Regions from separate parts of the Homo sapiens genome. Here regions 1 and 3 are each reported to be linked to region 2. The links are microRNA targets in miRTarBase. Many come from high-throughput screens and were not tested one by one. Region 2 holds a microRNA gene; each other region holds the end of a gene's coding sequence. Distances are from middle to middle.
Evidence for each region. Region 2 holds the annotated microRNA hsa-miR-6513-3p (UCAAGUGUCAUCUGUCCCUAG, at 1,823-1,843, shown strand). A microRNA usually pairs through its seed, bases 2 to 8, with sites in the 3' UTR of a target mRNA and lowers its output. Matches are read on the target gene's strand: a 7mer-m8 pairs with bases 2 to 8, a 7mer-A1 pairs with bases 2 to 7 and ends in A, and an 8mer does both.

Region 1: the mRNA of ANKRD36 is a reported target of hsa-miR-6513-3p. The part of its 3' UTR that is shown has no 7-base or 8-base seed match.
Region 3: miRTarBase lists TPMT as a target of hsa-miR-6513-3p. Seed matches in the 3' UTR shown: 7mer-A1 at 930-936.

Annotation. Positions count from the first base shown.
Region 1 is chr2:97,249,913-97,252,912 of GRCh38, reverse strand. It overlaps ANKRD36 (ankyrin repeat domain 36), which reads right to left. Exons shown (of 76, transcript NM_001354587.1): 75 at 2,740-2,769. The coding sequence ends at 2,746. Among named protein-coding and RNA genes, the nearest start is that of ANKRD36, 140 kb to the right of the region's middle.
Region 2 is chr2:218,278,773-218,281,969 of GRCh38, reverse strand. MIR6513 (microRNA 6513) reads left to right here and starts at 1,782; the gene lies at 1,782-1,845. The region is part of intron 2 of PNKD (PNKD metallo-beta-lactamase domain containing); the gene reads right to left. It overlaps TMBIM1 (transmembrane BAX inhibitor motif containing 1), which reads left to right. Exons shown (of 12, transcript NM_022152.6): 2 at 1-30; 3 at 1,844-1,944; 4 at 2,617-2,681; 5 at 2,879-2,932.
Region 3 is chr6:18,127,888-18,130,887 of GRCh38, forward strand. It overlaps TPMT (thiopurine S-methyltransferase), which reads right to left. Exons shown (of 9, transcript NM_000367.5): 9 at 424-2,893. The coding sequence ends at 2,781. Among named protein-coding and RNA genes, the nearest start is that of NHLRC1, 6.7 kb to the left of the region's middle.

The DNA of each region.
Region 1 (3,000 bases), 120 Mb from region 2:
AAAACCTTATTAAAGAATTCCTGAACAATATAAAGTTCCCTCAGCAAGACGGAACTTCCCAAGCTCTTGTCTCAGGAGAGAATGTGGATTATAGAAAGATTGTGGGTGTGAGTGGAGTGGGAAGTTATTTAGGTAGTAAGATTTTCAGGCTCGGTGCAGTGGCTCACACCTGTAATCCCAGCACTTTGGGTGGCCGAGGTGGGCAGATCACAAGGTCAGGAGATGGAGACCATCCTGGCTAACAGGGAGAAACTCCATCTCTACTAAAAATACAAAAAAAAACTAGCTGGGCACCTGTAGTCGCAGCTACTCGGGAGGTTGAGGCAGGAGAACCGCGTGAACCCAGAAGGCGGAGCTTGCAGTGAGCCAAGATCTCGCCACTGCACTGCAGCCTGGGTGACAGAGCCAGACTCCGTCTCAAAAAAAAAATAATAAAAAAATAAAAAGTTAAAGAGGCCAAGAAACATCATTTAAAACACGATATAAATTTTCATCAGACATAAAAGATAAAAAATATTTTCATTTAATAAATACTTTTGCATGTCACACATTTAACGGGAAACAAAATATCATGTTAACAGCCTAGTAATACAATTTTATTGTCTTAGATTTTTTTCGTCAGCATGTATTCTTTCTGTTTTGTTTTGCATTTGAGATGGAGTCACTCTGTTGCTCAGGCTGGAGTGCAGTGGCACGATCTTGGCTCACTGAAACCTCTGCCTCCCGGGTTCAAGTGATTCTCCCACCTCAGCCTCCCGAGTAGCTGAGACTACAGGCATGCACCACCACACCCAGCTAATTTTTGTATTTTTAGTAGAGACAGGATTTCACCATATTGGCCAGGCTGGTCTTGAACTCCTGACCTCAAGTGATCCACCTGCACTGGCCTCCCAAAGTGCTGAGAATACAGGCATGAGCCACTGCAGCCAGACAGCACATATTCTTGTTATGCTTTTAAAACTAGTTATTGATTTAAATTTTACTCATTAGTAGATTCTAGTGCAGAAGCTATAGAGCAGCAGTCCCCAGCCTTTTTGGCACCAGGCAGCAGTTTTGTGAAAGATAATTTTTCCACAGATGGGGGTTTGGGGGATGGTTTCAGGATGGTGATTCAAGCGTATTACATCTATTGTGCACTTTATTCCTATTATGACTACATTGTAATACATAATGAAATAATTACACAACTCATCATAATGGAGAATCAATGGGAGTCCTGAGCTTGTTTTTCTGTAACTAGATGGTCCCATCGTGAAGAGATAGGAGACAATGACATATCATCAGGCATTAGAGTCTCATAAGGAGCATGTGACCTAGATCCCTTGAACGAGCAGTTCACAGTAGGATTTTCACTCCTGTGAGAATCTAATGGCTTTGCTGATCTGACAGGAGGCAGAGCTCAGGTGATAATGTGAGCAACAGGGAGTGGCTGGAAATACAGATGAAGCTTCACTCGCTTGCCTGCCACTCACCTCCTGCTGTGCAGCCTGCTTCCTAACAGGTCATGGAACTGTGTGTGGCCTGGGAGTTGGGGACCCCTGCTATAGAGGATTCAGATTTAAATTCAGAAGTTAGAATGAAAAAGAATTATATTCTTTATCTAAATGATTTCACAGTTAACTAAGAGAAAGTCAGTATATGCTGAAAAGCTTATCAGTGTTAATAAGAATGAAAAATATGTACAATATGCAATTACTATTAAATATAATTTGCCCATAGTTGCACACCGAATTCATTATCATGGCAGTTAAGTATCAGAGCTTCTGGTTTCTCACTCTTCGTTCATGTATTCAGCAACCATGTGCTAAGGTACTAGGACAAGCACTGGAATTACAAGATAAAGATGATACGGTCCGCCCCTCAACAACTGTATGCTATAATCTGAAAAAACAAACAGGCAATTCCCATACAGAGTCATACATACAATGACAAGCATAAGACAGCACTTATTGGAAGACATAGAAGGGATACTAGCCCAGGTTTGTGTCAATATTGTAGGCTTTTTGGTAGAGGCAATTCATAGGTTGATATCTGAAGGGGAAGGAAAACACATGTAGGATAGAGGGAAGAAGTAAATGCAAACAGCTGGAGGTGAAGACGATCACTGTGGAGCTCCATGTAGTCTAGTTTGGCTGGATGCTAGAACAAAGGTGTAGAGTATGGTAAGTGGCGAAAGATAAGGCTGAATAACTTGACAAGAACCACACTGATGTGAGAGTTTTGATTCCATGCTAAGGAATTTTCAACTTTTCCCAGGGGCAAAAGTAAACCAATGACAAAGTCAATGACTAGAGATTTAAAATGTCACTGGTCAAGTGACTGCTTGTGACCTGTAATTGCTTAACTAATTATTATCACATGAGTGTGGGGTCTGTTAGCCTTAAATCACTACCTTAACCTTGAGAAGTTGATAATGCCTTTGTTTTGTGAGAACAGTTTCAGTGTGCAGGCTGATAGTCTATAGGGGTGGCAGAAGAAAAGTGTAGGGCCAGAAAAAAAGGGATACACAGATTTCTTGCGATTTTTTTAAAGCTATGAAACATGATGAATTAACAAAGCATAAGTATACCCTTCACTATGAATGTTTATGTTTTCACATCTTTCACTAGATGTGTGTAAGAAAAAATATTTAATGTAGCATTTATTAACCAAGCAATTGAGAGGGAATACCGTTCACTACTTAGAGTTTATTTCAGAAATCAATGATTTGAATTTAATTCATAAATTTTGGCAACATACCTTCATCTAGCTCTCAAACACCTGCAGCATCTGAAATAAATCAAATATTACTTATAATGTTTCAGTCAAACAAGAGACATTATCATGTAAACCCACTGTAAGTCAAGGAGCATCTGTACTGTAGATTGATCATCCCTAATCTAAAAATCTGAAATCCAAAATGCTCTACAATCTGAAACTTTTTGAGCACGGACATGACACCACAACTGCAACGTTCCACACCTGACCTCATGTGACAGGCTCTGGGGAAAACAGTAAAAA
Region 2 (3,197 bases):
CCCCCACCCACCCGATGCCCATGAACTACGGTGAGTCCTGGAAGGGCAGATGGAAGGTGGGTGGGAGGGACAGCACTTGGAGCAGATGAGGCCACCGCCTCCTGCCCCTTTTCTCTTCTAGTTTCCCTTAAATCCCTTTCTCATCTTCTCTGTTGAGATCTCTCCCTCTGTTTCTGTCTTTGTTACCCTCCACTTTTTGCCTCAGCAACTGGCCCCCAGCCACTTGCTGCCCCCTTTGTTCAAGGAGATCCATGAGGCATGTCCCAGAACGTACACACCACAGGAGAATGGGGCTGGGCCAAGTAATGACTCCTGAGGGGTTACCTCAGGGCACCAGCTCTGTTTCCCAACAAGCGGCCAACAAGCTGCTGCCACCTCCCAGACCTGTCGACTTCCTTAGGAACTCCTTTGGGAACCTGAACCACTTTCCTCATCCTTTAAAGTGAAATCTGACTTTTGCAAAAGACATTTGGAGCCAAGTTTGGTAAACATCATGGCAGGGACATGCTTGTGTTTGGTCAGAAATGAGGTGAGGCCGGCCGCGGTGGCTCACGCCTGTAATCCCAGCACTCTGGGAGGCTGAGGCGAGCAGATCACCTGAGGTCAGGAATTCGAGACCAGCCTGGCCAACATGGCAAAACCCCATCTCCACTAAAAATACAAAAACTTAGCCGGGTGTGGTGGCGTGCACCTGTAATCCCAGCTACTCAGGAGGCTGAGGCAGGAGAATCGCTTGCAATCCCAGGAGGTGGAGGTTGCAGTGAGCCAGGATCGCACTACTGCACTTCAGCCTGAGCAACAGAGCAAGACTCTGTCTCAAAAAAAAAACCAAAAAAAAAACAAAAAACAAAACAAAACAAAAAAAGAGGCCGGGTACGGTGGCTCATGCCTGTAATCTCAACACTTTGGGAGGCTGAGATGGGCGGATCACGAGTTTGAGACCAGCCTGGCCAACATGGTGAAACCCTGTCTCTACCAAAAATACAAAAAATGAGCCGGGCGTGGTGGCATGCGTCTGTAATCCCAGCTACTCAGGAGGCTAAGGCAGGAGAATTGCTTGAACCCGGGAGGTGGAGGTTGCGGTGAGCCGAGATCACGCCTTTGCACTCCAGCTTGGGCAACAAGACCGAAACTCCATCTCAAAAAAAAAAAAAAAAAAAAAAAGGAAATGAGGTGAAGTTAGAGTGCAGTGAGTCTTCCTGGGTGGCTCAAGCGTGGATTTTAAAAGTAGTTCCCAAAGAGGCATTCAGGCATTCAGGCATTCAGGGAATGTTTGCAGCCCTGCAGCATCTCTGAACCCCAGAGGGGTGTCAGCCAGCTCTCACCTGGACATGTGCGCTGGTGCGGATCTGCGCATGGGTCCTGCACAGTCACGCACACCCTTTGCACACCTGCCTCTGTGAGGCTGATGCAGATCCCTGTCTTCACCTCTATCCCTGCTGCTGCACAAACTGCGCTCTGCCGCCCTCCTTTTCTCCTACCCTCTGTCCCCATCCCCTGTTCTGCCCTGGCTGGCTGCCCCAGTGGATGCCCATACCTGCTCCTGCCTGGCTTCCCCACTACATCGTGACCCCCCAGTGAACCCCCAGTGGCGTGGGCTGGGCACACAGGAGCCCTCCACAGATGCACGTGAGGAACGTTTCCCACCTAAGCCCCCTCGTGACAGGCCGGCTCTGGGTCACTCTGAGGGTGTCTAGAAGACCCCAGCTTGGGAGAAGAGTTCCTGTTATAACACTTGTCTTTTGGCTGGAGATCCCTGAGACTTTGAGATTGTCAGGGAGGCTTTGGGATTGACGCCACATGTCTCAGGTCCCCAGCTGAGTCAAGTGTCATCTGTCCCTAGGCCCAGGCCATGGCTATGATGGGGAGGAGAGAGCAGTGAGTGATAGCTTCGGGCCTGGAGAGTGGGATGACCGGAAAGTGCGACACACTTTTATCCGAAAGGTAAGATACGCGCTGGGAGGTGGGTGTACCTGGGGCCCCTCAGGCTGTGGGAATGGGAAGTGGGTAGGCCACAGTAGCCCCAGGGCATCAATTCCATGAAATACACTGGCTGCCTGTCTTCTCTAGCCTTGTCTGCTTCTCAGAGGGGCACCTGGCTTCTCTAACCCCAGGGTTCCCTCTCTTTTTGCACCTCTCTTCTTGACCATGTTTTGGGAGGACACATTCAGTCTGGGAGAATCTCCTAGGTGGGTTCTGCCACAGCGCCCGCCTTCCCCAGACATCTTTCTCCCTTTAGACTATAGGCAGCTTGGAGCCAGAAATGATCCTACTCGCTTGTAACCCACCCTCTCCATCTCACAGCTGCATAGAGCGTGCAGACTGAGCTGCTGGGAGTGCAGAGGCCATACTGGTAGAGTATGGTGGCCAGGCAGGGCAAGTCAGTAGTCACCGAGGCTGGTGTTGGACAGGAGGGGAGATGGCAGGGAGCATGGGAGCGGGGCTGAGGAAGAAGTGCACATTGCCTCTGAGCCAGGCATCTCACTGGGGTCGCCTCTGGGCCAGGCTGCAGCTAGGGAGGGTTCTTGAGTGGGAGGAAAGTACTGGGGGCTGGCAGCTTCCTGGGGCAGGCCAGGGGTGCCGGATGGTGACCCATGCCCGGCCGTCTGTGTCCAGGTTTACTCCATCATCTCCGTGCAGCTGCTCATCACTGTGGCCATCATTGCTATCTTCACCTTTGTGTAAGTCTCTAGGCTTTGCCACCCACTCCTACTGCCCTGGGGGTTCAGGGTCACCTGCTGGGGGTGTGGGTGGCGGTGGGCCCTGCTCTCAGGGTGACCATGGGCAATTAGAGAAGGTGAAGCCAGGGCTGCCTGGCTGGCCTGGGTGGGGCAGACAAGCCTCAGGGTGACTACTCCTGTCCTCCTGTGCCCCACAGGGAACCTGTCAGCGCCTTTGTGAGGAGAAATGTGGCTGTCTACTACGTGTCCTAGTGAGTGTGTGCTCCTCTGTGGTTGGGCAGGGAGGCAGGGGTGGCAGCTTCTGTTTCTAGGTGACCAGCTTTGCTCAGGGCAGGATCAAAATGCTTTTTGAGAGGGCCCCCAAGTTGGTGCCAGTTTCCCGTGCCAGAGGGTGTGGGTGTGCGTGCCCAGATGAGTAGCAGACCCCTAGAACTCGAGAGCAAGAGTGGGACCTGCTGGTGGTGGCGTGCACGCTGCGCTGCAGCCCCCATGTCCTCTCAGCCCGTCAGCTGCAGC
Region 3 (3,000 bases), not on the chromosome of region 2:
GGTATGTACTACAGTTGCGACTTGGTAAATTGCTTGAACTAATATCTCCATGGCTTAGATTTGTATTTGTCACTTCATGCTGCCAATGAATCCCGTCAGCTGGGAGCTCTCTCATAGGTACATCTTTTGGGCCACCTTCTGTGGTCCCTAAACCATTCTTTATGGAGCCAAATCTCTGACTTCCCAGTGATAGCTGTTTAAGCTTTGGTTATATTTCTTTGTATTTTTCTTTCCACATTCACCCAAATAGATTAATTATTACGTACCTTTCTTACTTTGTCCTGTCTGCTAGTGATAACACTGTCTATACTGGAGCATTCATGCCTGCTTCATAGGCAGGGCAAGGCATTTATAAACCACTGTGTGCAGGGCACAGAGGCTCAGATAATCTGTTACTTAAATAATAAAATGAAACAAGAAGCATTTTTGGAAAATCCTGAAAACAATTTAATTGCTCTAAAATAATTTACATGTGGTATATCTTCCATCTTGAGATTTTAGGAAGTCAGTATTCCCCAGTGAAGACACATATTACATAAATGATCAACTACCTAAGGATATCTCATTTGTATTTAAGATTCTTTGGGCACAACTGCAAGCGGAAAGGACTCTATCCCATGGACACAGGGTGTTTCTCCCCACCCTGGGCAGCTGGGCTTCAGGGAGGATGAAAATGGACCCAGGACGCAGGTGGCCTCTCTTTGGTTCTCATCTCTTTCTGCAGATCAGCGTTCTGTTTCTCAGATCCATGTGCTGGAATGTGGCTGCCCCACAGCTCCCAGGCGTACACAGATTCCCCTTTCAGCAGTCAACTTGCCTTTCTTTTTTTTCTTTTCTTTTTCTTTCTTTTGAGACAGAGTCTTGCTCTGTTGCCCAGGCTTGCGTGCAGTGGCATGATCTCAGCTCACTGCAACCTCCGCCTCCTAGGTTCAAGTGATTCTCCTGCCTCAGCCTCCCAAGTAGCTGGGATTACAGGCACGTGCCACCACGCCTGGCTAATTTTTTTGTATTTTTAGTAGAGACGGGGTTGCTTTTCTATTCCCAAGTCCAAAAGCCTATGAAGAGGGCCAGCGCAATGGCTCATACCTGTAATCCTAGCACTTTGGGTGGCCAAGACAGGAGGACTGCTTGAGGCCTCACGTCAAGTTCAACATCAGCGTGGGCAACAAAGTGAGACCCTGTCTCTACATAAAAGTAAAATCAAAAGTCTCTGGAGAGAATTGTGTTGGTCCAGCTCGGGTTAGTTGTCCATTCAACCGGTGATACAGGCAGAGTTGGGGAGTCATGGCTTCTGAAGCCCACAGTATCGACTGGGAGCAGGTCTCAGAGAAGCAAGAATCACTGTGAGCAAGGAGTTGCTTCAAATTAATAGCCTTACAAATCTATTAGAATACATCGATGGCAGAGAGCTTCTAGGGTAGAAGTTTGTACATGCAGGCCAAGGGGAACTAGAGAGGCTGACAAGACATATCTCTGGGGAGAGTACCGTAGCTTTCACCAGTGTTAAAGGGGACCCCAAACCTTGCATTAACAACCTTTAAGCCAGCACATGTGCGTGCATGCGTGCACACACACACGTAACTCGTTTTTTATAATACACAACCATCCTATTAACATGAGCTAAACAATCTAAACCATTTAGTTGTTGGGTAGTACAGAGTTATAGAGGACTGTCTGATATAACAAAATGTGGTTAAAGAAGAACTGAGAAATCTAACCTTTCATAATAAACAGCCATGAATCCAGCTCTAAGTACATTATATTTTATAAGACCTGATGATTTAAACAGATTAAATTATAAAAAACAACAATTGCCAAACTCAGAGAAAACTTAAAGAAAAATTTATTCTTAGAATTTGGGAATGTTTGTTCCATATAGATTGTTTAATTAAAATGTATTTGTTTCTTGATTCTGTTACAGATTGTTTAATTAAAATTTGTTTCTTGATTCTGTTATATACATGGAGAAACCATGTGAAAAGGGATGCTAGGATCTGAGTAAAAGACAAGGGTTTATAGTAAAAACTAATCTTTTATATAACTTTTGGGACCACCTTGAACCCTACTGAAATGTTATAGTTCTTCAACAATTCTAAATTTCATAAAGAATGTCAGGCCAGGTGCAGTGGCTCACGCCTGTAATCCCAGCACTTTGGGAGGCCGAGGTGGGTAGATCACCTGAGGTCAGGAGCTCGAGATCAGCCTGACCAACATGGTGAAACCCTGTCTCTACTAAAAATACAAAAAATTAGCTGGGCGTGGTGGCGCACACCTGTAATCCCAGCTACTCAGGAGGCTGAGGCAGGAGAATCACCTGAACCTGGGAGGCAGAGGTTGCAGTGAGCTGAGATTGCACCATTGCACTCCAGGTTGGGCAACAAGAACGAAACTCCATCTCAAAAAAATAAAACAAAATAAATGCCAGTTTTTCTGTGTGTATTATATTTAATATGCATTGCATTTTGAAATATTTTTTTAATTGTACAGGTAACACATGCTGATTGGTAAAATATCTTGCAATCTGCAAGACACATAGGCATAATCTTTCACATCATAATCTCCTCTCCAAAGGAGCTACTTTAAAAGTTTAGTTACATCTTTTTCTTCTAAAACTTTTTTAGAAAAAGTAAATGGCTTTACTAAAAAGCCATTTTTAGTAAAGATCTATCATATGATTTATAAACAATTTTAAAAATTCATCCATTACATTTTCAGGCTTTAGCATAATTTTCAATTCCTCAAAAACATGTCAGTGTGATTTTATTTTATCTATGTCTCATTTACTTTTCTGTAAGTAGATATAACTTTTCAAAAAGACAGTCAATTCCCCAACTTTTATGTCGTTCTTCAAAAGCATCAACCTTCTCAAGACAACGTATATTGCATATTTTACCTGAAACAAGAAAGAGTAACATGTTAAAATACTATGAAGAATGACATCAGGGATTCTTTTAAAAATACTCAAAATTGGCTGGGTGCGGTGGCTCACACCTGTAATCC